Linked DNA regions of Homo sapiens. The protein of the gene in region 1 interacts with the protein of each later gene in a pairwise test. Each region holds a gene or a part of one and is shown in the gene's direction. Other genes may lie near its edges.

What was found.
Region 2: the proteins of TFIP11 (region 1) and THAP8 interact in binary tests that used the Homo sapiens proteins (3 or more experiments, as listed by UniProt).
Region 3: the proteins of TFIP11 (region 1) and CEP57L1 interact in binary tests that used the Homo sapiens proteins (3 or more experiments, as listed by UniProt).
Region 4: the proteins of TFIP11 (region 1) and CT55 interact in binary tests that used the Homo sapiens proteins (3 or more experiments, as listed by UniProt).

The regions. Positions count from the first base shown.
Region 1 is NC_000022.11:26,509,448-26,516,382, reverse strand, and holds the start of TFIP11 (tuftelin-interacting protein 11), read left to right. Parts: upstream 1-3,909; 5' UTR 3,910-3,950; coding exon of another isoform or gene 3,951-3,989; intron 3,990-4,207; coding exon of another isoform or gene 4,208-4,284; intron 4,285-5,065; exon of another isoform or gene 5,066-5,264; intron 5,265-5,680; 5' UTR 5,681-5,766; intron 5,767-6,101; 5' UTR 6,102-6,110; coding exon 6,111-6,319; intron 6,320-6,935. UniProt on the Homo sapiens protein: Involved in pre-mRNA splicing, specifically in spliceosome disassembly during late-stage splicing events. Intron turnover seems to proceed through reactions in two lariat-intron associated complexes termed Intron Large (IL) and Intron Small (IS).
Region 2 is NC_000019.10:36,044,269-36,051,294, reverse strand, and holds part of THAP8 (THAP domain-containing protein 8), read left to right. Parts: intron 1-177; exon of another isoform or gene 178-470; intron 471-2,075; exon of another isoform or gene 2,076-2,149; intron 2,150-4,947; exon of another isoform or gene 4,948-5,586; intron 5,587-7,026.
Region 3 is NC_000006.12:109,091,633-109,098,510, forward strand, and holds the start of CEP57L1 (centrosomal protein CEP57L1), read left to right. Parts: upstream 1-3,874; 5' UTR 3,875-3,943; intron 3,944-6,878. Other genes in the region: SESN1 (sestrin-1), read right to left, coding at 2,163-2,441. UniProt on the Homo sapiens protein: Centrosomal protein which may be required for microtubule attachment to centrosomes.
Region 4 is NC_000023.11:135,168,380-135,176,141, reverse strand, and holds the start of CT55 (cancer/testis antigen 55), read left to right. Parts: upstream 1-4,743; 5' UTR 4,744-4,970; coding exon 4,971-5,064; intron 5,065-6,363; coding exon 6,364-6,548; intron 6,549-7,762. UniProt on the Homo sapiens protein: Plays a role in spermatogenesis, possibly acting in the regulation of the autophagy pathway.

The DNA.
Region 1 (6,935 bases):
TTCTCCCCTTACTGTGTTTTGCGGATATTTAATTTCCAGATAAACACCCCGAGCCTAAGGAACCTCATGTTCCAGCTTTCCATATAAGGATAGAGTCTTCACGAATTCTTGAAAGATAAGTAGGGTAGAAACCATCTGTAAGAAACATTTAGAGGGAAATCAAATTGCTAATCTCAGCTGATCTGGGTTCTCAATTCTGCCAAGTTAAGGACACCATATATATTTTTGGGACAAAATGCAAAATAAGAATAAGCCATGTGCAACTGTATAATGTCACTGTCCTAGAAAAAGTACATGTGCTAGTCTTTAAATATATCAGCTTTGAAATGCCACTTATGGATTGTTTCTATGGTACCAACCTATTTAAAGTTGTAACTAAGTGACGATATTTTTTTCCCGAAATCTTTTGTAGGCAATATGGAAAGTGTGCTGTATGGCATAGGCTGTAGAAATAAGAGGTTAGGAATGTGGACTCTGGGGTTATAACAAACTACCTTAGAAGGCTGAAGAATCAAAGAGATGATGTCTGCAGAGTTTGGCTCTGTGGCCCTGAACACACAGGAATCATGATGTGGGACCCCATGCATGGTTTTGCAAAGAAAGCACCTGCCTGGGAGTTTGAGCTCCTGGGTTTCAGGCCTGGCCCTGTCCTTAAACTCACTGTGTGGTGCTGGCACCTCCACTCTGCCAGGGGCTCCCCCACCGCCTCAGCTGCGAAAAGAGAGGTATAGACCCATGAGTGCTGGAGGGCCCTGCCAGACTCCTTCTGCCCAAGGAGCCTTGTTGCTTTGGCAACCCCTTCTGCGAAGGCCACATGTCTGAGCACCTCATTGGGAATGTAGAAATGAGTGTGGATGTTCCCAAATCTCAAAGCAATGTTTTTGTTTTTTTTTTTCCCCTCTAGGAAATGACAGGAGATCACGATAGATATGAGACCTTGAACCTAAAGCTCTGGTTGCCTTGTAAAACTTTTCCTTGTTTTTCAAAGGCTGGGCATTTGATCCCAGAAATCCTGAAAAACCATGGATTTTTGAGACTGAAAGGGGTATGACATTGGGTTTTTAAAAATGAAGGCTGGCGCAGTGGCTCACGCCTGTAATCCCAGCACTTTGGGAGGCCAAGGCAGGTGGATCACGAGGTCAGGAGTTCGAAACCAGCTTGGCCAACATGTTGAAACCCCATCTCTAATAAAAATACAAAAAGTAGCCAGGCGTGGTGGCGCACACCTGTAATCCCAGCTACTCAGGAGGCTGAGACAGGAGAATTGCTTGAACCCAGGAAGCATATGTTGCAGTGAGCTGAGATCGTGCCACTGCACTCCAGCCTGGGTGACACAGTGAGACTCTGTCTGGGGGAAAAAAAAATTAAAACAAATAAAAAAACAAAAATTAGCTGGGCGTGGCGGCGTAACGCCAGCTACTCGAGAGGCTGAGGCATGAGAATCACTACAGCTGCGCCTGTAATGACAGCTACTCGGGAGGCTGAGGCATGAGAATCACTTGAATCTGGGAGGTAGAGGTTGCAAATGAGCGAAGATTGTGCTGCTGCACTCTAGCCTGGGCGACAGAGTGAGACTCTGTCTCAATAAATAAATAAATAAATAAATAAGAATATAGCCACAATCCTTTAGAAAGCTCTTACCATGCCAGGAGCTTTACATGCACTAATTATCACTTTCTGTTTTTGTTTTTCTCTAAACAACTCTCTTAGATCAGTACTGTCACTATCCCCAATCTACAGATGGAAAAATTGAGGTGTAGAGAGGTGAAGCAACCTGCCCTCGGGCCCATACCTAAGAAGTAGCAAAGTCGAGATTTGGATCCTTGAAGTTTTTACTCCAGAGCTTTCATTTTAAGAAATTGCAAAAAAGTTATTAAGTACAGAGAGAAACATTTTCCCTGTAATAATTTGAAATTAAGGTGACCATTTGATGCCTTATCCCCTGCCAAATACATTGATTTACTTTCCAGCAAACAAGAACATCCTCTGATGTAACTTAACAGGCAACCATGAAAATCAGGAAATTAACACGGACACATCATTACCACGGCATTGTAGGCCCCATTTAAACTTTTCCAACTGTCCCTGTAACTTCCTTTCAAGCAAAAAGATCCAGTTCAGAATCATGTGTTGTGTTTAGTTGTCATGCCTCTTTGGTCCCCTCCAGTTTGGAACAGTTCCAGGGTCTATCTTTGATTTTCATGACCTTGGCACTTTCTAAGATTACAGTTTTGTATACAGCATGTCTCTTTACGTGGGTTTGTCTGATATATCCTCATGATTACATCCAGGTTATGGATCTTCAGCAGGAATATCACAGGGGTGATGTTGCAATCTTCTCAGGGCATCCTATCAAGTGCCACATAACTTCACTTTGTCCCATTCCTGACAATGCAGACTCTGATCACTAAATCAGAGCCTGCACTCTTAACTACTCCATGACAGTCCACAAAGGTCCCTTCTTCAGAAGCCACAAAGTGAGTTCCATTTGGTGAAGTAAATCCACTAGCATCAGTCCCTCATGATCAAAGTAATTGCAGCTCCATAAAATCTGCTGTAAAGCCATAAACATAGCTACAGAAAAGCCAAGCGTATGTATGCTTTTGGCTTTTGGGCTACAAACAGATGTAAATACATTCAGGCACAGACTAAAAACACTTTTCTCCTCTGTTTCCCTTACTCTGCTCCTGGCAGGGCTTGTAGTCTGTTAGACCCTCTCTCCCGGCCTTCAATGCTAAAACCACATTTTCCATTTCTTTCCTGAGTACATACTATGTGTCAGGCACAATGATTCTACATGTCACTAAGAATACAGAGATCATTAAGACACAGTCATCATTCCTAAGCAGCCCACATTTAACTGGGTACACAAAAATTGTTGTTTAATTCTTAACAACTACTTGATGGTAGACTTAAGTATTTGACTCCAAGTCCCGTGCTCTTTTTACATTCCAACAATTGCCTCTTGAATCTTTTCATCACATAGAGCAGAGAGAGAAAAATTAAGCAAAAATTAATAGCTAACACTTCTTCAGCACCTACTGTTACCAGGTACGGTTTTCATTGCCTACAGTTTTATCTTATTGAATCCTTAACCATTTTGCAGAAGAGAAAACAGGCTTAGATGTAATGACTTGCCCAAGGTCCACAGCTGCTAAATTGCACTCAAGGTTGGAACTCCAGAGCCTGTGGACACTTAAATGTCTACAAGGAGTCCTTGGGCTAGTGAGGGCTTCCCAGGGAGGGCCCATGACTGTTCTGCTCATTGTATCACATTGGCCTAGCACAGGTGAGGGGCACTTAGTATATTTTAATTAGATCAATGAATAAATTAATGAATTTACCAACCTGCTGGAAACGAAAAGAATGGAAACAGCTCCTGGAGAGAATACTTGGGAACTCCAGAGTTTGCCCATTCATTCCTTCATTCCCTCTTAAACTCCTGCATAAAGGCCACTGCCCTGTGCCCACGACGGTGCTTATACCGAGAGCGTCAAAGATACAGGAATCACAGTCTTGACCTTCATTATTCCCATTTGAATGCTGTGTCCCAGGCCCCTTATTGTCTCACAGTATTTACCACAACTACCGTATGGGCTAATCCTACATCTCTATTTTACAGATTTACAATCTCAGAGTGGTAAAGTCTCCTTAGGCCAAGGTGGCTCAGCGGATTCCACACCAGTCATCACAGGCTGAGCGTCACAGTACAAAGCAGGAGCGGCAGGGAGGCCGATTCCGCGGGGAAACCACTCCCCAGCTATTCTAGGCCTTGCAAATCCACCCCTCCTATCTAAGATCCCAGCCGGCCGCTCTGCAGCCATATCCGCCGTAGCGTCCCACGCTGCCCTGGCAGCCAGCAGGACATCCGCTGTCGACTAACGTCATTTCCGGCGCGCCGGCCACGGTGCTTCCGGGTTCTGGTGTAGGAGCGGCGTCTTCTCGCGCGGATGGTGAAGCTGAATTTGGTACGCTGGACCCTCGGACAGGTGAGCACGGCTGGCCACAAGGGGACTCAGCGCCAGTGAGAGTAGGGACGAAGGCTCAGGGAAGGCGAGCTTCGGTCCAAGCCGTTGGGGTGTGGGGAGGGGAATCCATTTCGTAGACAGCTCTGCCGAGGCACGGAGAGGGGCGGTGCTGCTTGGGGTCAACTGGGATTTAGGGCTTGGATTCATTTAAGAACCTGAGCTTCCTTCACCAAACCTAGACAGCAAGAGAGAGACAAGCCCGAGGCCTGACTTCTAGCACTCCTGAGTTTGAGCCCTATGAGCAGTGGAACCTAGGGTAAGTTACTAACTTCTCTGAACCTCCTTTTTCTTATCTGAAGCATGAAAACTAACGGTACCTACCTTGCAGAAGTGTCTTGATGCAGACAGTTGATAATCGGTCTCAAGCGACCAGCATGTACCTAGCATCTACTGATAAAGGCTTCATAACTTGTGACTACTCGGGGCTTATTACCATTTACTATGCCCACGCAGGCAGTGGTATTATTTAACTTTATGTATTTGAGATTCCCCGTCTTTTCTGAAAATCCTTCTGTCCTAAACACTCCTGGAAGAGGTTGGGACCCGTTGCACCCAACCGGTGCACCAGTGAGTAGAAGAAGGCAGAGATAACGTTTTGCCAGAGGTGACCAGAGTTTGACACTGCCTGTGGAAGTAGTGAACTCCGTGTGCCTTAAGGCCGCTTTCAGCAAGACAAGAATCACAATTGCTGTCACCTATGGAGTGTATTATTGTGTAGTGCACCATGCTTGGCGCTTCACGTGCATATTTAATTCTCATACACTGGGTATCTGATAGAGTTGAATTTGAACTCAGGCTTCGATTTTAGCCTGCCTGATTTTACAGTCACTTTGCTAAGTTTACTCCCTAGTCCCATAATAATAATGATGATTGTGATGGTAAATACTGAGTGTCAACTTGATTGGATTGAAGGATACGAAGTATTGATCCTGGGTGTGACTATGTGGGTGTTGCCAAAGGAGATTAACATTTGAGTCTGTGGGTGGGGAAAGGCAGACCCACCCTCAATTCAATCTGTGTGGGCATAATCTAATCAGCTGCCAGCACGGCAAGAATATAAGCAGGCAGAAAAATGTGAAAAGAGAGACTGGCCTAGCCTCCCAGCCTATATCTTTCTCCTGTGCTGGATGCTTCCTGCCCTCGAACATTGGACTTCAAGTTCTTCAGCTTTGGAACTTGACTGGCTCTCCTTGCTCCTCAGCCTGCAGACAGCCTATTGTGGGACCTTTTGATCGTGTGAGTTAATAGTTAATAAGCTCCCCTTTATATATGTATGTCTATTCCATTAGTTATGTCGCTCTAGAGAACCCTGACTAATACAATGATTAACCTAATCATGGGACTAAAGTAGAAGCTATCGTTTCTTGAGCACTTATTTTGAACTCATTGAATTTGCTTTGTAAGCCTTCTCTAAGGTTGGTATGGTAGTTAATCCCAATTTAAGAAAGACAACTGAATCTGGTCACCCAGCTACTGTGAGGTAGATTCTCTATATCAATCTCTGGACATCTGACTATTAAAATAGTGTTCATAATTACTACAGTCTTTCAGTTCATCAGAAGAAATTCATGTTTTGTGAGGAAAACTGAAAATTTTGTTTCATCAAGTAATGTATTTCAAAAAGCATATTCTAAAAAAAATCACTCTCCTAGGACCACCAAGGATCCAGATATAATTCTTTCCTCAGTAATAGAAAAAAGAATCTGGGATCTAAGAAGATACCTACTCATTTTCTAAGGTAATAATGTACAAAATAACCTACTTAGTTATTTTTGTGTGGTTTGTGTATGTGTGAATATGTGTGATATTTATGATATTGACTAGGACAAGGAGATATGTACTTTTAAAGAATCATAGACTGTTAGGAGTAGTATTTTGTTCACCTGTTTTAGTACTGATTGTTATCTAAAAGTAGGTTTTTAATATCTTTTTTATTGAATAGTAATGCTGACTTTAATGGACTTTGAATTTGGAGAAAGTTCTGAAAGCAGCAAGGAATAGAGACTCACAAGGAATCCTTCGACTGCTGCCCCCAGGACTTACGGCCTGTGCTCTTTTTGTCTCTTCCTTTAGTGACTGGCCATGTCATTGTCCCACTTATACCGGGATGGGGAAGGCCGCATTGATGATGATGATGACGAGCGGGAGAACTTTGAGATCACTGACTGGGATCTCCAGAATGAGTTCAACCCCAACCGACAGCGCCACTGGCAGACCAAGGAAGAAGCCACCTACGGGGTGTGGGCAGAGCGAGACTCGGATGATGAGAGGCCCAGCTTTGGAGGCAAACGGTATTGCCTGGCATGGGGGCTGCTTCACCTTGCTTTAGGGAAGAGGGGGAAGATGGACAGGGAGTGGAGGAGATACCCTGATAAGTATACTTCTCACCTGGCCTTGTTGAGACTGTTAGCTGTGACATCATCTCGAGAGGTCTGGTTTCCTCTTTAGGCTAGAGTGCTGCTCTTTCACTGATTTATTCTATTTATTATTATTTTTTTTGAGACACGGTTTCACTTTGTTGCCCAGGTTGGAGTGCAGTGACGTGCTCTTGGCTAGCTGCAACCTCCACCTTCCAGGTTTAAGTGATTCCCGTGCCTCAGCCTCCCGAGTAGGTGGGATTACAAGCAAACGCCACCACCTCCAGCTAATGTTTGTATTATTAGTAGAGACGGGGTTTTGCCATGTTGGCCAGGCTGGTCTTGAACTCCTGACCTCAAGTGATCCACCCACCTCAGCCTCCCAAAGTGCTGGGATTACAGGCGTGAGCCACCACGCCTGGCCTCACTGATTTAATTATCAGTGTTTATTGAGCGATTGCTATGTATTAGGCCTGTGCTATAGACCCATTCTTGCCTTCCTAGAGCCCAGACATTAGAAGATGGAAATAGGCATTAACAACTCAGACGA
Region 2 (7,026 bases), on another chromosome or scaffold:
CTCTTTCCTCCTGCCCTTCACACCAGTGACACTGGCCTACTTCATGTTCCTGTAGTGTGGCAGGCATGTTGCTGCCCTGGGGACTTTGCCTGTGTGATTCCCTCTGATTTCAAAGTTCTTGCCTTTATGACTACCACCCTATGGAAAACTGTAACTGACACCCAAACACACACACGATTCTCTCTGTCTCCTGCTTTATTTTTCTCTTTAACACATCACTGTCTGCATATTGCGTTTTCGATGTATTCATTCATTATCTCCCCCACTAGAATATCAGTTCAATCAAGCCAGAGGTTTTGTCTTTCTTTGTCTTTCTTCTTTCCTCCTGTTTGTGTCTCCAACCTCTAGAATATTGCCTGGCACATAGTAGGTTCTTAGTAAAGATTCGTTGGGTGGATTTGGTGAATGCCTTTCAGATGGGCTCTCCAGGAAAGCCAGCAGTCCATGTGTCACGGATCCTTTGAGGGACCCTGGTGTAGGGCCAAAGGGACTTTAAGCCTGTGTATGACTCTGGCAACATTGATTAATTCAGCAACTTTTTGAGTATTTCTTGGAGAAGCAAGTAAGCCCCTGCTGGACACAAAGAATCCTGACAGATCTTGTTTCTGCCATGACAGAGCTCATGGATAGGTGAGGGATCAAACATTGAGGAACTGAGTACGTGACCTGGGAGTTACCCATGATCCTTCCTTTTCATTCACCGCTAGTCCATTAACCCACCCTTTGGCTCTACCCTCAAGACATTTCTCCATCCTGCAACAACCACAACAAAATCTCTAACACCTTGACAAGACAGTTATAAACACAAATGAGAAATTCCTAAATAAATCATTAACAAATAAGGAAAGATAGGCTGGGCGTGGTGGCTCACACCTGTAATCCCAGCACTTTGGGAAGTCGAGGCAGGAGGATCGCTTGAGCCCAGCAATTTGAGACCAGCCTGGGCAACGTGGCAAAACCCCATCTCTACAAAATGTAAAAAATTAGCTGGACGTGGTGGTACACACCTGTAGTTCCAGCTACATGAGACAGTGAGGTGAGAGAATCACTGGATCCCAGGAGCCGAGGCTGCAGTGAGCTGTGATTGTGCCACTGTACTCTAGCCTGGGCAACCGTGTGAGACCTTGTCTCAAAATAAATAAATAAGAAATAAGGAAAACACATTCCCAGACTACTTCTCATCACATCCACTGTCATCATGTAGTCCAGGCTGCCATCATCTTTTTTTTTTTTTTTTTTTTGAGACAGGGTCTTGCTCTGCCGCCCAGGCTGGAGTGCAGTGGTATGATCTCGGCTCACTGCAACCTCTGCCTCCCAGGTTCAAGTGATTCTCCTACCTCAGCCTCCTGAGTAGCTGGGACCACAGGTGCACACCACCACACCCAGCCAATTCTTTGTATTTTTAGTAGAGATGGAGTTTCACCATGTTGGCCAGGTGGGTCTTGAACTCCTGACCACAGGTGATCCACCCACCTTGGCCTCCCAAAGTACTGGGATTACAGGCGTGAGCAACCGTGCCTGGCCCGTTTCCACTCTTACCTCTCTCATAACAACAACAATAGTTACTTAGTATTTACCTTATGCCAGGCACTGTTCTAAGTGCTTTGTATGTATAATAAGGAGGAAAATGATGACGACTGTATATAGCAGCCAGATGACTGTATAAAAATCACTTCATGTCTTCATTGGCACCCGCTAGTGACTAGCCCATTTCCACCTCAGGGCCTACCCCTGAGTCAGTCTTGCAGAAGCCACTTAGTTAAGAGTTAGATGAGAAGCAGTTTCCAAAAGAGGCTTAGGAGAGGGCATGGATGCCAGGTGAGAGATAAGATGAGACACATTGAGGGAAGTGGCTGCCAGGAAATAACTTGAAATCCTGCTTGGCAGCCAATGGGAACACTCATTAGTTCACTCTCTCTTTTTTTTTTTTGAAACATGATCTTGCTTTGTCACCCAGGCTGGAGTACTGTGGTGCGATCATGGCTCAATGCAGCTTCAGCCTCCCAGGCTCAAGCAGTCCTCCCATCTCAGCCTCCTTTTTTTTTGTTTTTTTCATTTTTCTTTTTTATTTTTATGCTAGTCAAGCATGGTTGTGTGGGGAGACAATGTTAAATCAGCTTAACAATAACCCACAACACTCGGACCAGCTCCATCTCAGCCTCCTGAGTAGCTGGGACTACAGGCATGTGCCACCATGCCTGGCTAGCTTTCATTAGCTCTGTCTTAGGCCCTTTCAGGGACAGTGGCAATGGGGTCATCTCTTATGGGGGACCTATCACTTAGAATTGTATCTGCTTGGTAGTAACAAAGTCCTGCAATAAGAGTTGCTTAAACAAATTATGGGGTCTATAGGAATCAGTGTGGTTAAGTTATGCTGCACAAACAAACTTCTCAAATCTCAGTGGCTTACTACAACAAAGGTGTTTTTTGTTTTTTTGTTTTTTTTTTTTTTTAAAGAAGGGGTCTTTATCACCTGGGCTAGAGTGCAGCACCATCATGGTTCACTGCAGCCTCAAACTCCTGGGCTCAAGCAGTCCTCCCGCCTCAACCTCCTGAGTAGCTGCGACTATAGGCAGACACCACCTTGTCAGGCAAATTTTTCTAATTTTTGTAGAAATGAAGTCCCATTGGGCTGGGCGCGGTGGCTCACACCTGTAATCCCAGCACTTTGGAAGGTTGAGGCAAGTGGATCACCTGAGGTCAGGAGTTTGAGACCAGCCTGGCCAACATGGTGAAGCCCCATTTCTACTAAAAATACAAAAATTGCCAGGCGTGGTGGCACACGCCTGTAATCCCAGCTACTCAGGAGGCTGAGATGGGAGAATCGCTTGAACCTGGGAGGCGGAGGTTGCAGTCAGCCAAGATCGCGCCACTGCACTCCAGCCTAGGCAACAAGGGTGAAACTTCGTCTAAAAAAAAAAAAAAAGAAATGAAGTCCCACTATGTTGCCCAGGCTGGAACTCCTGGGCTCAATCAGTCCTCCTGCTTTAGCCTCCCAAAGTGCTGGGATTACAGGCATGAATCACCACACGTGGCCCAAAGGTGTATTTCTTGCTCACACTATGTCCTTTGCAGGTCATTTGTGGTCCTACTCTACAGTATCTTAATTGGGGTCTCAGGCTGAATAAACTATCCCTATTTGGAGTATTGCTGGTCTTGCAGGAGGAGGAAAAAAGAAAGTGGAGTGAATCACCCAGTGGCTCTTGGTCAATTTCATATTTAGAAGTGGCCTGTGTCACTTTCACTGGCATTCTTTTGGCTGGAGCAAGTATATAGCAAGCCTCAAGTCAATGGAGTGGGCATGTGTAATCCTCATGTGGAGAGAGACAGCAGACATTCTATTACAGGGTTTATTTTCCCTCATATACAGAAAGTACAGAGGTTGGCAAACCAGCACTGGGATAGTAGCTCCACAGTCATGAGAAATGAGGGGTCCTATCACTATTTTTCTTTCTTTTTTTTTTTTTTTGAAAGTCTCATTCTGTCACCCAAGCTGGAATGCAGTGGCACAGTCTCAGCTCACTGCAACTTCCACCTCCTGGGTTCTAGGGATTCTCATGCCTCAGCCACCCAAGTAGCTGGAATTATAGAATTACAGGCGCATGTCACCATACCCAGCTAATTTTTGTATTTTTAGTAGAGACAGGGTTTTGCCATGTTGGCCAGGCTAGTCTCAAACACCTGGCCTTAAATGATCCTCCCACCTTGGCCACCAAAGTGCTGGGATTACAGGTGTGAGCCACCATGCCCGGCCTCTTTCTGCTCTGTCATCCTTAGCCTGTGGCTTCCATCCTTGGCCTGTGGCTTCCATCCAAGGTGGCTGCCAGTGCCCCAGCCACCACTGCCACCATTCCTTATAGGAGGAAAAGGGAAGGGAGGAAGAGCAAAAAGCGTTCAGGTCTAAACTGAATCATCTCCCTTTATAAGGCCTTCCCAGAAACCCCGTTCAATGGCACCTTTTCATCATTGGTCACCCCAACTGGAAAAGAGGCTGGGAATTGTGGTCTTTAAAAACTGGGCATTTAATCAGCCTGAAGAAATTTTGAGTTACATTAGTAAGAAAGAAAAAAAGGACTTCTAGCAGTATATGCCACCCCATGCTCTGGACAAGATGACCAGCAAGACTAAAATAGTTTATACAAAGGGGAACATGGGGGTATAGCTCAGTGGTAGAGCATTTGACTGCATACAAAGGGGAACACTTGTTGTCTGCTTAAGGTAGTTTTTTAGAAAGCAACATTGCCCATTACAAATGCTGCTATCCAGAGGAACAAGAGAGAGTAAGACCAATTAAGGAGACCTTTCTTAGGATATTGACTTTTTTCCTTTGCTCTTTGAGCTGCTGAATCCTGTTGATCGTCCCTTCCATTTAAGGCACCATCCCAGAGATCCCACACAACACTAAAGCATTCCTTGGCCAGAAGGTAGTCACACGCCCCAGCCAGCTGCAAAGGATCCTGGGAAACATAGTCTTTTAGCAGGACACATTGTGGCCTCAAAGAAAGTTGGAGTTCTGTTAGTAAGGAAAAGGCAGAGAGTAGATACGAGTAGTCCATTGGCAGATTCTGCCTGGGAGATGGTGGCAATAAGAATGGGGAATGCTGTTGCAATAGATCTTGTGTTTGTGTCCCGGAAGAATGGGGCTGCTGAGAACATTGGGATCTTAGAGGGAGGCTGACTGCAGCAGCCAGACTCCCTGGCTGTGTGCCCTGGGGTTCTGCTCTCTGGGTGCCACTGCTGTTCTCTGAGTCAGCCTTTCTGTGCTCTTTCACCAGCTACCTGCCCCCTCCACCTCCATCTTCCTTTGTCTGAGAAGTCTTGGCTCTCCCCATCTCCGTTCATCCCATCCACCTCCTCCCCACTGGTAGCCTCTTTAGTTTCTTGTGTGTCCTTCCTATGTGTCTTAGTCTGTTCTCACACTACTATAAACAACTACCTGAGACTGAGTAATTCATAAAGGAAAGAGGTTTAATGGACTTACAATTCTGAATGGCTGGGGAGGCCTCAGGAAACTTACAATCATGGTGCAAGGCGAAGGGAAAGCAAACATCTTACATGGGGGCAGGAGAGAGAGAGAGCAAGAGGGGAACTGCCACTTTTAAACCATCAGATCTCATGAGAACTCACTCACTATCATGGGAACAGCATGGGGGAAACATCCCCCATGATCCAGTCACCTCCCATCATGTCCCTCCCTTGACACATGGGGATTACAGTTCAAGATGAGATTTGGGTGGGGACACAGAGCCAAACCACATTACCATAGTTTCTTTATATAAATACCAGCAAATGTGAAAGACATTCTTATTTCTCCCTTTATTACACTATTAGTTTCCCATGCTGCTCTAACAAACTTGGTGGCTTAAAACAAGACAAATTATTTTCTAACAGTTCTAGAGGCCAGGAGTCCAAATCGGCTTTCCTGGGCCAAAACCAAGGTGTCGGCAGGGCTGTACTCCTCTGGAGGTTCTGGGGGAGAATCTCTTCTTTGCCTGTTCCGGTTCCTGGTGGCTGCAGGCAGTGCTTGGCTTGTGGCCACATCTCTCCAGTCTCTGCCTCCATGGTTGCATTGCCCTCTCTTCTTTTCTGTGGTAATATATTCTCCTCCCTCTTATTAAAAGGATACTTGTAGTGGCATTTAGGGCCAACCCGGATGACCCAGGATAATCTCCCCATCTCAAGATCCTTAACTTAATCACATCTTTTGTCATATAAGGTAATATTCAGGCCTGGCACAGTGGTTCACGCCTGTAATTTCAGCACATTGGGAGGCCGAGGTGGGAGGATTGCTTGAGCCCAGGAGTTTGAGACCAGCCTGGGCAACAAGGCAAAACCCCATCTCTACAAGAAATATAAAAATTAGCTGGGCATGTGGCACATGCCTGTAGTCCCAGCTACTTGGGAGGCTGACGTGGGAGGATTGCCTGAGCTTGGGGAGTTTGATGCTGCAGGGAGCCGAGATCACACCACAGCACTCCAACCTGGGTGACAGAGCAAAACCCTGTCTCTAAATAAATAAATAAATAAATATACAAAAAAATTAGCCGGACGTGGTGGCGGGCGCCTGTAGTCCCAGCTACTCGGGAGGCTGAGGCAGGAGAATGGTGTGAACCTGGCAGGCGGAGCTTGCAGTGAGCCGAGATTGCGCCGCTGCACTCCAGCCTGGGTGACAGAGCGAGACTCCATCTCAAAAAAATAAATTAAATAAATAAATAAATAAATAAAGTAATAGTCACAGTTTCCAGGAATTAGGACATGGATAGCTTTTGGGGGCTACCACAATGACTAAAAGCTGAGATAGTCTATTTAGAACCTTGCTTTTTTTCACATAATGTGTGCCTGACAATAGCATGTCAGTTCACAGAGTACCTCTACATTCTGTTTTATAGCTGCATCGTATTCTTTTGTGTGGATGTGCCTATGTTTACCCTCTCTCCTGTAGGAATTTTGTCCCTAATTCTCTAGCACTCACTAGTCTATCTTTTCAACAAAGAGAGAGCAGGGGTGGGGTGTGGTGCCTCATGCCTATAATCGCAGCACTTTGGGAGGCCAACGTGGGAGATCACTTCAGCCCAGGAGTTCAAGACCAGTCTGGACAACATAGTGAGACCTCTGTCTCTACAAAAAGAAATTTTAAATTAGCCAGGTGTGGTGGCACATGCCTGTGGTCCCAGGTACTCGGGAGGCTGAGGTGGGAGGATCACTTGGGCCTAGCAGTTCAGGGCTACAGTGAGCCATGATCGTGCCTCTGCACTTTAGCCTGGGCAACAGAATGAGACCGTGTCTCAAAAAAAAAGAAAGAAAAGAAAAGAAAGAGAGCAGGCCTCAGGCTCATAACCCTCAGTAGGTAATGGCATCTGATGTTTTTATGGTTAGCTTTTGTTTATGGAATTGATACTGATTTTCCATTTTCAATTGTGATGTAAAGTTTCTCTTTTAAGTATCTTTGTTTAATAGTTAAAATTGGTTAGTTTTAAGAAAAATATGAAATAAGTAATATCACAGATATGGAAAACATTGTGAAGA
Region 3 (6,878 bases), on another chromosome or scaffold:
TCTGCTTAAATGTCATTGCCTCAGGAAAGCTTTCCCTTACTATCTAAAATTAAATTTTATATTTGTTTACTTCTTTATGGTCTGTTTCCCTTTGGTATGATGTCAAAATTGTTACCACTGGTCCTCAGTTCTCAGAATGACATTCAGCAGGAGTTCAATAAACATTTGTTGCATAACTGCAAGCATAAATGAATGATGCTGGGGTGGAAACTCCCTAAACTGAAAACTTCATCTATTCAGACTACTGATGAAAAACAGAAAGAAAGTATAAATTTGTTCATCCACTGGATATTTATTTAGTAGCTTCCAGGTCCCAGCCAGTACTCTTAAGAACTCATAGCCTTCCTATGGGAGACAGACACAAAAGCATGTGCTTATAACACAATATAAGTAAATTGCCTTTTATAATTGTACAATAGATGCAGAGATGGAAAAAAAGAGTATAAGTCTATAGGGAACCTTCCCAGGAAATTCCTGAGTCCTTTTGCAGGATGAAAGAGTCTTGAAATATATATTGCATAGTCTATGTATTTCACTTATGAAAGGGAGAGGAGCATCTACTATATATACCAGAGTACTTTACATCTGATTTAATTCCCACAAGAGCTCTGTGTTGTTATTCCCATTTTACAGATGTGGAAATCCAAGCTAAGAAAGGTCAAGGAATTTGCCCAAGGTTACAGGCAAGGACATTAGTAAAGGAGTGGAATTTGAGCCCAACTCTGACTCCAGTACCCACTTATTTATCATTATATTGAAATCCTTTGATACTATGCTCCCCAGAGCCTGCTTACTTTTATTTTCAATATAACTCTTAACACGATTGGTTATCTGGTTTCCCATTCTAATATGAATTAAGCAGCAAAATGAAAGATCAGGAAGAGACCAAAGTCAAGTATCCTGACGGCAAAGGAAAGAACAGAAAAACTATAAAAATTACACACAAAAATACAAAAACTAATGGATCATATAGTCAGTCCTCCACCCTTTGCTGCACAACAATAGTTGATATGCATAATGATGACCCCATTATGGACAAAAATGGTTGTTACAGTCACTACAGTCTAGAAGATAGAGAAATAACTTTTTGTGTTTCAAAGGGTAAACTTCAGTTACCTAGTATATTAATTCCTCTCGGGTAACTCTGAATTGTAACAATTGTTTCCAAAGTGTTAGTGAGAAGAAATATCCCAAGATCTTAAATAGAGTCTTCATTTTGTGGATATTATTTTTCTGTTGCTTTAAACTAAATTCAAGCCAGTATATAAAAACTGTCACTTTTAACTTACATAGTTACCCAAGTACATTTTAAATTTTAAAAATCTCTCATACAGGACTTTGGACAACACACGTGGATTGAGAAATGTAAAGATTGACAAGCATATATAAGGTGTTGCTGAATATTGTCAATATCTAAAAACTTAAAAAAAAGTATTCTAAGACACCTTGTAATAAAACAGGATAAATTATGAACGAAATGGAGGAAAAACTATAATATTTTTAACCTGCTGCACTCGTATCTTAAATAGCTACACATGTGAAAAAGAAACAATTCAGGCAAACACAGAGAAAGCTAGTTGAGCAATTTGCCATAAAAGTGTTTCTATCAAATACCCCACCTGGGTCCACCTTTTCAACATGAAGATATTAGCTTCTTTTAAGATAGGTTTTTATTATTTTATATAATTCTCTTCTTGAAAAAAGAGAGGTTGCATTTAGAGAACACATCCTGGTTTGTTTTGTTTTTAAAAATAAGAGAAAATTGTTCCACCAATTATCTTGAACAGGCTGACTAGGAAACATTTAATATCCTTTATCATTTTAGAGGCTTTTAAATGTGAGCCTTTACACTCAGAACACTGTGACAATGTGAAAAAAAAACACTGGCTACATTTTCCAACAACATGTAAAAAGAAATATAAGGAAAAACAAGTATTTACTTGGAATTAACTGTAGTTTTCATATATTCTTCCAGGAGCAAAGCAGTTTCTGCCTAAAACTCTAGAAAAACACTACTTGTTTACTTACAGAACACTCTAAAGATGTAAACTCATAATAAAAGTTTACATAACAACCTAATAGAAACAAACACAACGTGAATAACGGCAAGTAAAATTTAACTGTAGTAGAGACATAGTTGTATTTAAAATGCTCTTCCTTACCTGGATGCTCTTCAGAATAAACTCACTTTTCTCTCTCACATCTTTGAAGGGACACCTCTTAGAAAGCATAAGCAGATGAGCAAGTAGCTTATTCAACCCATCCGAAGACTCGGTATTTGAAAGCCCGTCTGATGGACGATGAGGTGTTTCTTTCACCGAACGAAGATACTCGGTTTTCCTCAAAATGGTTTGCCTAATGTTTTCCAATGCTGTCTCCCTAGTAGTTGAATCTCTGCTGCAGAGTCCATCCCATCTCACTTCATTCTCTCCTTCAGCCATGACAATAGTTTTTCCTTTGCGGTCTTCAGTTACCTTTCAGCATGCCCCAAAAAAATTGCTTTGTATTTTTAAAATGAAAAATGTAAAAATAAAATCAGAGAAATCAAATCGTCATGAAAACACACATCTGGGTGACATTTGGAACCACTGGTGCCTTCAGCCGATCTACAAGCTAGGTCACCCTCTCACCCTCTCCTTGTACACGAAAGGGCAGTCTTCTTTCTGGAAAAACAAAGTTTGAAAGTTGCAACCTTGCAGCGCTGGCTTTGGTGGGCAGAGAATTTCGGGGAAGCGTTCTCCTCCGTCTCGCGGGGTCAGTGGATATCCTCACGTTGTGGAGCTGTCAAATCCGTGCTCTGCCCCAAAAGGCTGTTAACAGCTGAACGCCCTCCAGCCATTCGGGGCTTTTTTGTCTGTGCAGCCACCGGGTTCTCTCCGGCGTTCCCACCCCGCCCCTTCTCCGACACCAGTCCCCGCCCTCCGCAGCTCCTCCCAGCGCCTCAGCAGCCGGCCGGCGCCGGCAGGGAAGGCTCGCCGAACCCTGGCCCACTGGCCGCAGCGGCCGGAGGCTTGGGCGCTGTCGGAGGGCGGCAGTCTCGGGCAGCCGTAGTCTCGGCGGGCGGCGGTGAAAAAAAGCGTCCCCCAGCCCCGCCAATTCGGCACCCCCGGGAAGACGCTACTTCTCCGATCCCTGAGCCCTCGCCCACCACCGCCGAGCCAGAGGGCACAGGGCGGCCCTGGCAATCCTCGAGCGCCAGGCTGGGCCGCGGAGCTGGCGGGGCGGCGGGGCCCGAGGCGCAAAGCCCGCCCTTCGCCCAGCCCCATCGGTGGGGATCAGCCCAGAGGGCGGGAGCAGGGAGTGGAGACGGGGTCCTCACCCCCAGCCCCTCCCCTTTCTCCGCCCGGCACAAACCGGGAGCCGCCCCGGCCCCAGCGCCTTCTTCCCCGCCCAGGCAGACGCGACCCGCCGAGGCAAAGCCTTAGGAAAAAGCCCCGCCCTCTGGCAGGCTACCCTCCGGACCCCAAGTGCGCCGCGCGCGGCTGCCAGCCACTGCCGGCTGCTACGCATGCGTGACTGCGAACTGGGCCAAGCGCCCCCGGAGGCGCTAAGCTTGCGCCCTGAGGCGGTTTCCGTTCCCGGACGTTTGGACTCTGTCCTGGAGAAGGGGAAGGAAAAAGTAAGACGTAGAAGTACACTGAGACTTCGTCACACATAAAACAAGCACGACAAAGAAAGAGGGCGCGAAGGGACTCCTGGAAGAAATTGAGTCTACATTTAAGATCACCCTAAAAGTAGTGACGGCCTCTTCATTACTCCAAACCCCAGATTTAAGTCGGTAGGACGTCTTCGCGTTGACTTGTGGGGAATGTAGTTTCGATGCTGCCGGCGCGTTTTGTTTGCGACAGAAACTACAACCCCCAGGGGCCACCGCGACGTTGCCTGTGGGTGCCCGCGAACCAACGGTTAGCGGTGGCAGGGGCTGACTGAGAGCGTCTGCTTGGTAAGCACTGTAAGCTGGGTTGTCACCTTTCCTTGACAGGGTTTTTCCTTCCTCCATTTCCTCTGGGATTTTGGAGACAAAGCCATCTAGGGTGGCCTCCCTTAGTCCAAGGACTTTTTCCAGTGACTTGCGTGGGAAGGACTAGTCCAGCTGCCCAAGCGCGGGGTGTGGTGGGTGAGGCAAGGATTTGGGATCCTGATCCCAAGGGTCGCAGGGAGCGGCCTAAGTAAGGCCAAGAAGGAAGGATGCTGTGGAAACTGGAGCTTCGCGCTGCTGCCTCTGATTCCGCCCTTTTTTGTGGACACACGCGGGGTGGATTTGGGATCTCCGCGCATTTGCACCTTTGTTTGCCTTTGCTTAGGGATGTTCTGGGCTTTATTTGCTCAGTCAAATGAAATCCTAGGCAGGGCTTTGAAAGCAAGTTGTCAAATCCATCTCGTAAAAGAATCCCCAGTATTCCTAGATAGGAATTCTTGCAGGCTTTAAGGATACAGCAGGAAAAAGAAAGCAAAACCGTAAAAGTCTCCAAAACTTAGTCGACTTTTTCAAAAGATTCAGTCATTTGCTTAAAATTAGTTTGCTTTTAAAAAGTTATTATTTGAGAAAAGTCGAGGTTTGAACGGCCATCAGTGGACTGATAATCGGTGTAGATTTTAATTCTTTACATTGCAGAATTGCATTGCACTAAATTCTAAAAATTTCGTCTTGCTAGGCACTGAGTATACAACAATGAAAAAGACAGTCTTACTAGTTAGAGGAACTAGTTGTTAGACATACGGTTACAATAATACATGATATCACTGGGATGTCTAGAAGGAGATGACTTAGCCCAATCTTGGAAAGTCAGGGAAATCTTCATCCCAGGGGAAATGAAGACCAAAAGAACAGCATATGCTAAGGCCCAGAGTGAGAGATAGGGTACTTTCAGGAAACGTCAGTAAGCCAAATCATGCATACTTGGCGGTGTGGGGTGGGACGGGAAGGGTGCTTTTTGTGTATTGATGCACTTAGAAGCTACAAAGAGACAGGTATTGTGAATTCTTTACATCGTTTCTGTAAGTGAGCTATTTTTGAATAGATGCATAGTTCTGATGAATTGGTCTAATTTCAAAAGCCTTGTTACATTCTGACACTTCTAGTTTGAATCTGAATTTTAAAAAGGGAATAACTTATGAGTGTGATTGAAAAAGCAAAACAAAAACCATTCCGTTTTCATCTCCTTTTTGGGATCTTCATTCTCTATCCAGCCCATAAAGGGTCGGGTAGTTTCTTAAGGCTGGGTGCCTTTTTATGCCGTAGTTAAATATGATCTCATGTATACCCATGGCTTCACCAACACCTATGACTCTCAAATGAATAGCTCCATTCAGCTTCACCTCTCAGCTTTCACAATATCTCTTGGATATTTCTTCTTGGATATCTCAAAAGCATCTCAAACTCAACATACCTAAAACCAAATGCATAGTTATCTCTTATGAATCTAATTCTTTTTCAGTGTTCCTTATTTCAGCAAAGGACACTACTATCCATCTACTTGTGAAAATTTGAAAGCTAAACATTATTCTTTATTTCTTCTTGCCCTTCATACTTCTATGGCCAAATTATTATGAAGTTCTGCCAACCTTATCTCTCAAAATATCCTTCAAATATATTTTTCTCTCCACCTGTCTTCAAACTGCGATAATCTCTCAAGACCACTACAGTAGCAATTATTCACAATGACCCTCCTCCATTAGTTCTCCATTATATCTGCCAGAATGATTTTTTGAAACTGCAGATTTGATCAGATTTTCTCTTGGTTAAAACTATTCAGTGGTGTCCTACTACTGTTAAAGACAAAACTCCTTTATAAAGCCTGACATCATCTGGTACTCTTTCAGACTAACTTCATATATTGCCCTCCAGATCAGCCATACAGTCCATTTTTCAGTCATTGGTTCTCATATTCCATTTCACCCACGCGTTTACTCAACAAATCTCTGTTGAGTCCCTTTTATATAACAGGACATTGAAGATACAGCATTGACCACAATATATAAAAATTCCTACTGTCATAGAGCTTGCATTCTACTGAGGAGAGATAATAAATAAATATGTAAAACACTTAGTAAATGAAATGAAGACAAATGCAGTGGAGAATAAAACAACTGGGAAGGGGAATGGGGAGTGCCAGGATGTGAGGGGCAAGGTTCACTTTTAAATAAGGTTGTTAGAAAAGACATAATCCAGAAGGGGACAATTGAGATATGAAGTAGGGGAGGGAATAAACCATGTAGATGCCTGGGCAAATAACATTCTAATGAAGAGAATTAGTGCAAAGGCCTTGGGCAGAAGCCTGAGTGCGCATTTGAGAAATAGCAAGAAGGCTAGTGTGGCTGGAGCACAATGAGTACAAAGAGGAGAATAACATGAGGTCACAGAGAAAGGAAGTAATGGTAGGAGAACATGTAGGTGACTGAAAGGACTAACATTTTTAATTGGGTTGGGAAAGCATTGGAGAGTTTTGCGCAGATGAGGGCATGATCTGACTTTTAAAAAATGACTACTTTTCTCTCTCTCTCTTTCTCTCTCTCTCTCTCTCCCTCTGTCTCAACGGAGTTTTGCTCTTGTTGCCCAGGCTGGAGTGCAATAGCACAATCTTGGCTCACTGCAACCTCCACCTCCCAAGTTTAAGTGATTCTTCGTCCTCGGCCTCCCAAGTAGCTGGGATTACAGGCATGCACCACCATACCTGGCTAATTTTGTGTTTTTAGTAGAGACAGGGTTTCACCATGTTGGTCAGGCTGGTCTTGAATTCCTAACCTCAAGTGATCCACCCACCTCAGCCTTGCAAAGTGCTGGATTACAGGTGTGAGCCACCGTGCCCGGCCTCTTTCTTTTTTCCTGAGACAGAATCTGACTATGTCACCCAGGCTGGAGTATAGTCATAGCTCAC
Region 4 (7,762 bases), on another chromosome or scaffold:
ATAGCCGACAAAGCTAAGACAACGGAGAGCTGACATTGACATTCTGTAACAAATAAAAGCAATCCAAACACTTATTGTGTTTTGAAAAACAAAGATATGAATTGGAAAAACTCCCATCACATGAGGAAACCAAAATTCCCATCGATGGGAATTGTCCCTATCCATTAAATCATAATGAATAATATACTTATTGATACATGTCATTTAAAGCCTTGTCACTCTATTCTTATAGAAATATTTGTCTAAACACTAGTCCAACACTTATTTCCAGTGTAGCTTTTGTAATGAAAGGAGTAACATTTTACTCCATGGTGCAACTCATGTGCACGAGGGAGGCTGGATCACTGATCTGCAAGAAAACTCAATTTATTGGCTGATTTTACTTACAAGTTGCTGCTGTGTCAGACCCTGAGGACAGGTTGCAAAGCCAGGAAACAGCTGAGTTGAGCTGGGATCTAACGTCTTCCGAACCACAGTTCTGACGTTTACAGCCAGCTGTAACATTATTCTGAATGAGGCCCAGTACTGTTTAGATAGATGCACAAAGGAAAGCAAAGTATTCAGATTTGGTGTGAATTGCCTTAGAACCAGATCCTTTCTCAGGTTGCTGGAATGGTTCAGGATGTTACCCTTTTCTGATTCAATTAATTGCTGTGGTATTTATTGAGAACCTACCGTGTGCCCAGCACTGTTCTAGATGCTGAAGGCCCAGCAGATGGAAAAAGCAACCACGAACAAAAGCTCTGCAGTCATGAAGCTGACATACAAGTGGGAAGAGACCGACAATAAATACTCTGATAAGCATATGAATAAGTAAGAATTTCCGTCTAGCAGTTAGTGACAGAAAGAAAAGTAAGCAGGTGTTTGTGATAAGAGGTTTTTGAGGGCAGTGACCACGGACAGATGGTTTTCAATATTTTCAGTCGGAGTCAGTTTCCCTGATTTGAGAGTGAAACATGCAGGTCACTAGAAGCCAAGAAGGCGAATCACATGGTTATATCTTTGCTGGAATCTGGCACTGAATGATTGCTTCATGGATACTTGTGAAGGTGTGCATTTTGTTCATGGGAGACAGTTAAAATGTGAGAAGGTTTAATGGGGTGCATGGCATCCTTGTTCAGAATTGCTGTTAATCTACTTTGTGTCCAGCCCTTGTATATGCCAAGCACTGGGCTAAGGGCCTTGGGACACACACGTCATTTAATGCTCACAAAGAATCCTATGAAAGAAGTCCCAGTAGCGTCGTGTCCATTCAACAGCCAAGTCAGGGACACAAACAGGAAAGAGGGGGCGCACAGCTGCTCTGTGGCCCAGTGGAATTCATCCCCTGGCATTCAGGTCCAGCAGCCATTTCTTATCTGATGTGTTCCGGGCCTCTGGAGGCACCTCCTACCACAAAGATCATTCACAGTGTTTCCAGCAGGTTGGTATAGAAGAGCCCCTTCTTTGTTCTGCAGTATTCTCTCAGCAGGGACCTGTCTTCCTGGTGCTGGAATCTACCTGTAGCTTCTCTGCCAACAGAGTTTGAACCCTGCAGAGGAGGCTGAGTCTGACTTAGTGAAGTTTGCCAGAGAAGGCTATTTCTTACCTCTTTCTAAGGCGATTTCTTAGCACCAATCTCTTGCTGCAGCATCCGTTATTAGCTCTATTTGTGCCAGCAGGGACACATGAAAGGGTTTTGGGCATGTTTTCATATGTCTGAGTGGCTGCTGTCTCTTCGGTTCTTTCTGCTTTCTTCTGTGCCATGATGGAAACTAAAACATTTGACCCAGTGATGTTTTTTTTCAATCATTCTTTAGAGGTGGTGAGACTACAGGTATGTTTTCAAAGGATTGATAGTTTTTGCTGATGGATGGCATGGAGTGTGTAAAGAAAATGGAGAAAACTAAGGGTTATGGCAGGGATATGATGTTAACCCACTGTGTGAACTGAGCTGACATCGTGTGAGATGGAGAAGATTTATGGAGGTGAAGGGGTTGAAGGAAGCTCAGGACATATGAAATTTTGGACACCTTACCCTTGAGTCGTCTATGGGATAATCACGTGTGTAACTCAGTATACATATGGAATTGGGAGTACGTGCACTTAGATGCCATGGGGCTGGTGTGTGGATAGAGAGGCCATTCAGGGTCTGAGTCCTGGAGCACTCTTGTGCAATCCTGATAGGAGGAACTTCTCACAAAAGAGGCTGAGAAGGAGTCTTTCTAGGAGAGAGTGGTCACACAGAAGACCAAAGAACTTATTTCAAGAAATGGGGAGTCCTCACCTGCGTCAAACACTGAGAGGTTGAGTGATGAGAGCTTAGCATATTGACCACTGGATTTGGAGACCTGGAGGTTTCCTGTCATCTTAAGAGCAAATTAGGGGCATGATGTGGGTAAAAGCCTAATGCCAGAGGAATAAGGAGAGAATGGGAGCTCAGGAAGTGAGCAGAGGTGATTCTTGAAATAGCATTTGCTGTGGGGGACAGGATGCAGAAGAATGGGACTGAAGGGGAAATGAGGCCAAGGAAGCTTATTTATCTATGTACATTTTTAAGATGGGAGTTATTTGTGAAGTTTTTAAGATGGGTGATTCTTGTGTATGTTTGTATGTTATTCCTTTGCAGGCAAAGATTAAAAAAAAAAAAGATTGTTGATGCAGGATGAAGAGAGGCAACAGCAATAGAAGCAACATCCTCAGAGAAAATGTGTCAAGAGAATGGTTCCATGTGCTCAGTGGAGTTTCAGCCCTGGCCAGGGGCTGCGATGTCCTTCCATTGTTACAAAAGAGAAGGAAGAGAAAGCCAGGATGGGTGCCAGGAGTTTCACAGAGGGGCTCCTGTTTCATGGCCTGTGTTTTCTCAGAGAAATAAGAGGAAATGTGTGCTTACCTGTGTGTCCTAATTTTTCATTGATAATCATAGAATATTGGAGTAATCAAAATTTACAAGAGCAGTTGCTGTGGGTTGAATTTTGCCCTGAAAGAGATATGCTCAGGTTCTGAGCTCCAGTACCTGTGAATGTGACTTTATTTTGAATAGGGTCTTTGCAAAAAAAAAAAAAAAAAAATCAAGTTAAGATGAGGTCCTACAGGATTGGGATTAGTCATATACCCTTAATCCAGTGAGTGGTGTCCTTATAAGAAGAGGTGTATTGGACACACAGACAGATGGAGAAGAGCACCATGATATGAAGGAGGAAGAGATTGGAGTGATGCATCTACAACCGAAGGAAGCCAACCGATGACTACTGGCAACCTACGGAATCTTGGAATAAACTCTCCCTCAGAGCTTGCCAGAAAGAACCAACCTCACGGAAACCTTGATTTCAGACTCATAGCCTGCAGAACTGCAGAAGAATAAATTTCTGTTGTTTAAAGCCACGCAGTCGTAGTAATGTGTTGTGGCCTCCCTAGGAAATTAACACAGTTGTGTTACATTTTGAGACATAGATAGCCCTCAACCGATCCTGTTAACCAGATGATAATCTTCAGCAATGCTCTTACCTGTTCTCACAGTAGGAGAGGAAAGACAAACAGGTTTCATCCACAGTGCCCATGGATTGCATCAGAATCATCCAAACTGTTCTCCTTGCTTCCTGCTCTGACCTCTTCCAGCCTGTTCACAACCAAGCACCTGGAGTGATCCCTGGAGGCTCCAAATCCTTCAGGGACTTTACGTGTCATGGACAATAAAAGCCAAAGGACTTCCAGTGCCCCACTATCCCACATGCAGCCTGAACCTCTATTATCTCTCTTACCATACTTCCCACTCTTCTAGCTATTCACTGCCTCTGCTCTAATCACTGCTTTTCTTTGAATACATCACGCACAGTCTTGCTGTATGGTCTTTGCACAAACTGTGCCCTCCGTCTGAACGGCTCCTCCAAAAATAGCTGCCTGGCTAACTCCAACATCTTTCTCAACTATTGCTTTCCAATGAGGGCTACTCTGACCATGCTATTGTAAAGTGCAATCCAATACCCCATGCCCAGCACTGTGGATCTCCCTTGTCCTGCTATATTTTTCCATGGCATTTATTGCCTTCTAACATACCATATATTTTATTATGTGATGTTTAGTGTCACCCTTTCGTCATCCTGTGAAAAATCTACCCTCACAGGGTGAAGATTCTTGACTCTTTCATTCATTAACAAATTTTAGGAACACAGAACAGTGTCTGGTTCACAGTTAGTGCCCTACAAGTTTTGCTGAATGAATGAATAAGGGTAATGTGTATATCAGAGTAATGTAAGCATAACCAGGTAAGCGATGAGTACATGGTAGCAATGATCATAAAAGGATTCTATTATAAATTATCACTGGACTAAAAATGGCAGTCCTAGTACACAAGACACGTACTTGCCATCACTAAAACATTGCCTACCCACATGATGCCCTCTCTCCACAAAATTGATCCCTGGTGAGGAGTAACTATTGACCGCCCACTGAGTGGTGACTCCTTATGCTAAGCACCACGAATACAAGGGCAGGAGCAGGATTTTTGGTTGCACAGCCGGTGTTTCAGGCACCCATCCTCCCAGGGAACCCAAGAGAAGAGCCCTGTATCTCCTTAGTAAATGCAGAACCCAAGCTCCCAAGCCATTTTCCCCAGGCCATCCTAATGGCTCCCTCAGCCTTGATGGGAGAAGCCACGATGTTCCCACCCATCGCCTTTTAGTAGCCACAAGAACCTGCCCGCCCACCCACTGCACGCCCATTGGTTGGACAGTGGTAGAGGCGGGCCCTGACGAGCGCATGCTCAGAGGGAGAAGTCAGCGGAGAAGCTGGGAGCTCCTTTGGAGGCTGCGGTGTCCCTGACTCTCCTGAGGGGGGCTCACTAACGGGTGGGTCCCATGCCACAGTGTCTGAGGAGAAGCAGGAAGTGAGTCCCTGAGGAGACGCCGTGACCTGAGGGCTTCCCTTACTGAGGAGGCCTCGTGCTTCATCTGCCACAAGCGGTGCCCAGGCCGGTGGTGACAACTGGGACGATGCTCAGGCTTCTGAGACTTGCTTTGGCCTTCTACGGGAGGACGGCCGACCCTGCAGAGCGACAGGGCCCACAGCAGCAGGGCCTCCCACAAGGTATTCCTCTGTGTGTCCCCTTGTCCCCCACCCCAGAAGCCTCCCAATAGGGGTTCTCCTCACCCCCGGAATGAGGCTGTTGTAACTCGGGTGGGTACTGCACGTGACGGTGGCTCCATCTTGTGCGTGCATGGGGAGGCAACCCGAGGCAACCCGAGTCCTCAACAATTCCCTGAGAACCAACCCCCAAACTCTCCTGTCCATCTAAAGCGGGAAGGTGTTGACAGAGAAGACCTTGGGGTCTGTACCGCCTGTGCTTTTCCCCCACGTGGTCGCACAGCACATGCCTATTTATATTTCCAGTAGGCGAGAAACTCCCTAATTTGCGAGTTAATTTAGGCTTGTATCCCAAACGGGAATGTAATTTGAAGCCAAGTTGATGCCTCATACTTATCTGATCCCAAAGGAAGGCAGAGAACCCCTGCCGGCGACTGCTGAGGTTTGATCCCTAAGTATTGCTGATCAGCTAGGCTTGTGCAGAATAAAAAAAAAAGAAGAAGAAGAAGAAGGAGAAATAAAGAAAACCATTCAGATGCCGTTTTGGGCTAGCCTTCAATCTCCAGATATCTTTTAGTACTTTGTCTGCTGAGATGGTTAAGTATCTATAGAAGGTGCTACTCATCATGTTGGTGATAATGATGAAGGAATATAATAGGAGCAGAAGCTTAAAGACTCATATGTAGAAATGCTAACAGGTAACATTTACACACTCTTGTGCAAGGCACTCAGAGCTCTCGACAGTTGATGTGCATGTGTCAGTTAATATTCGTAAGCTGGGCGCGGTGGCTCACACCTGTAATCCCAGCTCTTTGGGAGTTCCAGGTAGGTGGATCACTTGAGGCCAGGAGCTGGAGACCAGCCTGGGCAACATGGCAAAACCCCGTCTCTATTAACAATTCAAAAATTAGCTGGGTGTGACGGTACACACCTGTAGTCCCAGCTACTGGGGAGGCTGAGACATGAGAACCACCTGAACCCAGGAGGCAGAGGTTGCCGCTAGCCCAGATTGCGCCACTGCACTCCAGCCCCGGCGACAGAGCCAGACTCTGCTCAAAAAATTAAAAAATAATTAAAAATTAAAATTTTTAAATTTTAATAAATTTTTAAAAATATTTTAAAAACCTACAACAACCCTATTAGGCGAAATTGTGATTGTTGTGGATTGACAGATGAAAACAAGGTCAGAGACGTTATAAAACTTCTCTGCCCAGGGTTATGCAGATGGTGAGTGTAAGACTTACTTGTAGTAGGTGTTTGCATTTGAGGCTAATAATGTGACCTTGTTTCTTTATCTTGTAGGTGACACCCAGTTGACAACTGTGCAGGGAGTTGTCACAAGTTTCTGTGGTGATTATGGCATGATTGATGAGTCGATCTACTTCAGTAGTGATGTTGTGACTGGCAACGTGCCTCTAAAAGTTGGACAAAAAGTTAATGTGGTTGTGGAAGAAGATAAACCACATTATGGATTGAGAGCAATCAAGGTGAGATGTGCATGAGTTTGGGAATTGTGTCTTATCCCAGTGGGCTTTCTTTCTCCATCTTTCTTTTCTTGAGTTAATCCGACATCTCTGCTGTGATCCGTAGAGTGGATGTAGACTGCAATTTGAAGCCCCCCTCCTCTGAAGCTGTAGCTTCTTCTGTTGTAATATTTGTAGTAATTTGTGCTGTAAAACATAAAAGCTTACTTATCTATTATTCTAGTCTTTAAACAATATGAGTAACAATAATAATTATTGAACTCTTTATAATCTTACAACTTCCCTTATCAGGTAAAAAAACATTTTCTGTAGTGTGCATTCAAAACAGTGGAATTTCTATGTCAAGCCATGTGCATTGTAAATATTTTAAAAAGAGCTTCATGGAATTATAATTCACCAACCACAAAACTCTCTTAAGGGTACAATTCAATAACATTTGCAGATTTACGGAGTCCTGGCAACATCACCTGAGCCCAGATATTTGCCCATTCAGTGGCTATTATGAAATTATTCTTTAGCTCTATTGTACTAATTGATTCTCTCAGCAATAGGAGGTGAGACTGCCCATCTGCCCATATAGGCAAGGACAACAATACTATCGATCTGAAATCTTTGCACATATGAGAAAGGAAAAGCAGTCTCATCATTCATTTGGAATTATTAAGGGTCTTCATGAGATTACAGTAAGTTTTATTTCTTAGACCTACTGATACAATAGGGATATTTATGGCTATCTCTATGGTAGGAAAATTAGATTTGTAATAGGAAAGTTTGTGTATGAAGCCCTTGTAGTATTTCGTCTGATACCATCTTTTTCCTTTGCTTTATGTCTTTCATTCTTTTACAGCATTATTGAGATATAAGTCACGTGACTATACAATTGGCCCACTTAGAGGGAACAATCTAGTGGTTTTTAATTTGTTCACAGAGTTATGCAATCATCACCACAATCAACTTTAGAACATTTTCATTACTCAAAAGGAAGCTCTTCGTGCTCCCCCAACTGTCCCCTCCCCCAACAACATCCAGCTCCAGGAAATCACTTATCCACTTTCTGTTTGTATATATTCTGGACAGTTAAAAAAGGTTCCTTCTATACAACTGTAATTATATGTTCTTTCACCAACATCTTCTCATTCCTCTGTCCACCCTAACAACACAAGCGTCTGGTAACCACCATTCTACTCTACACTGCTATGAGATCAACTTTTTTATCT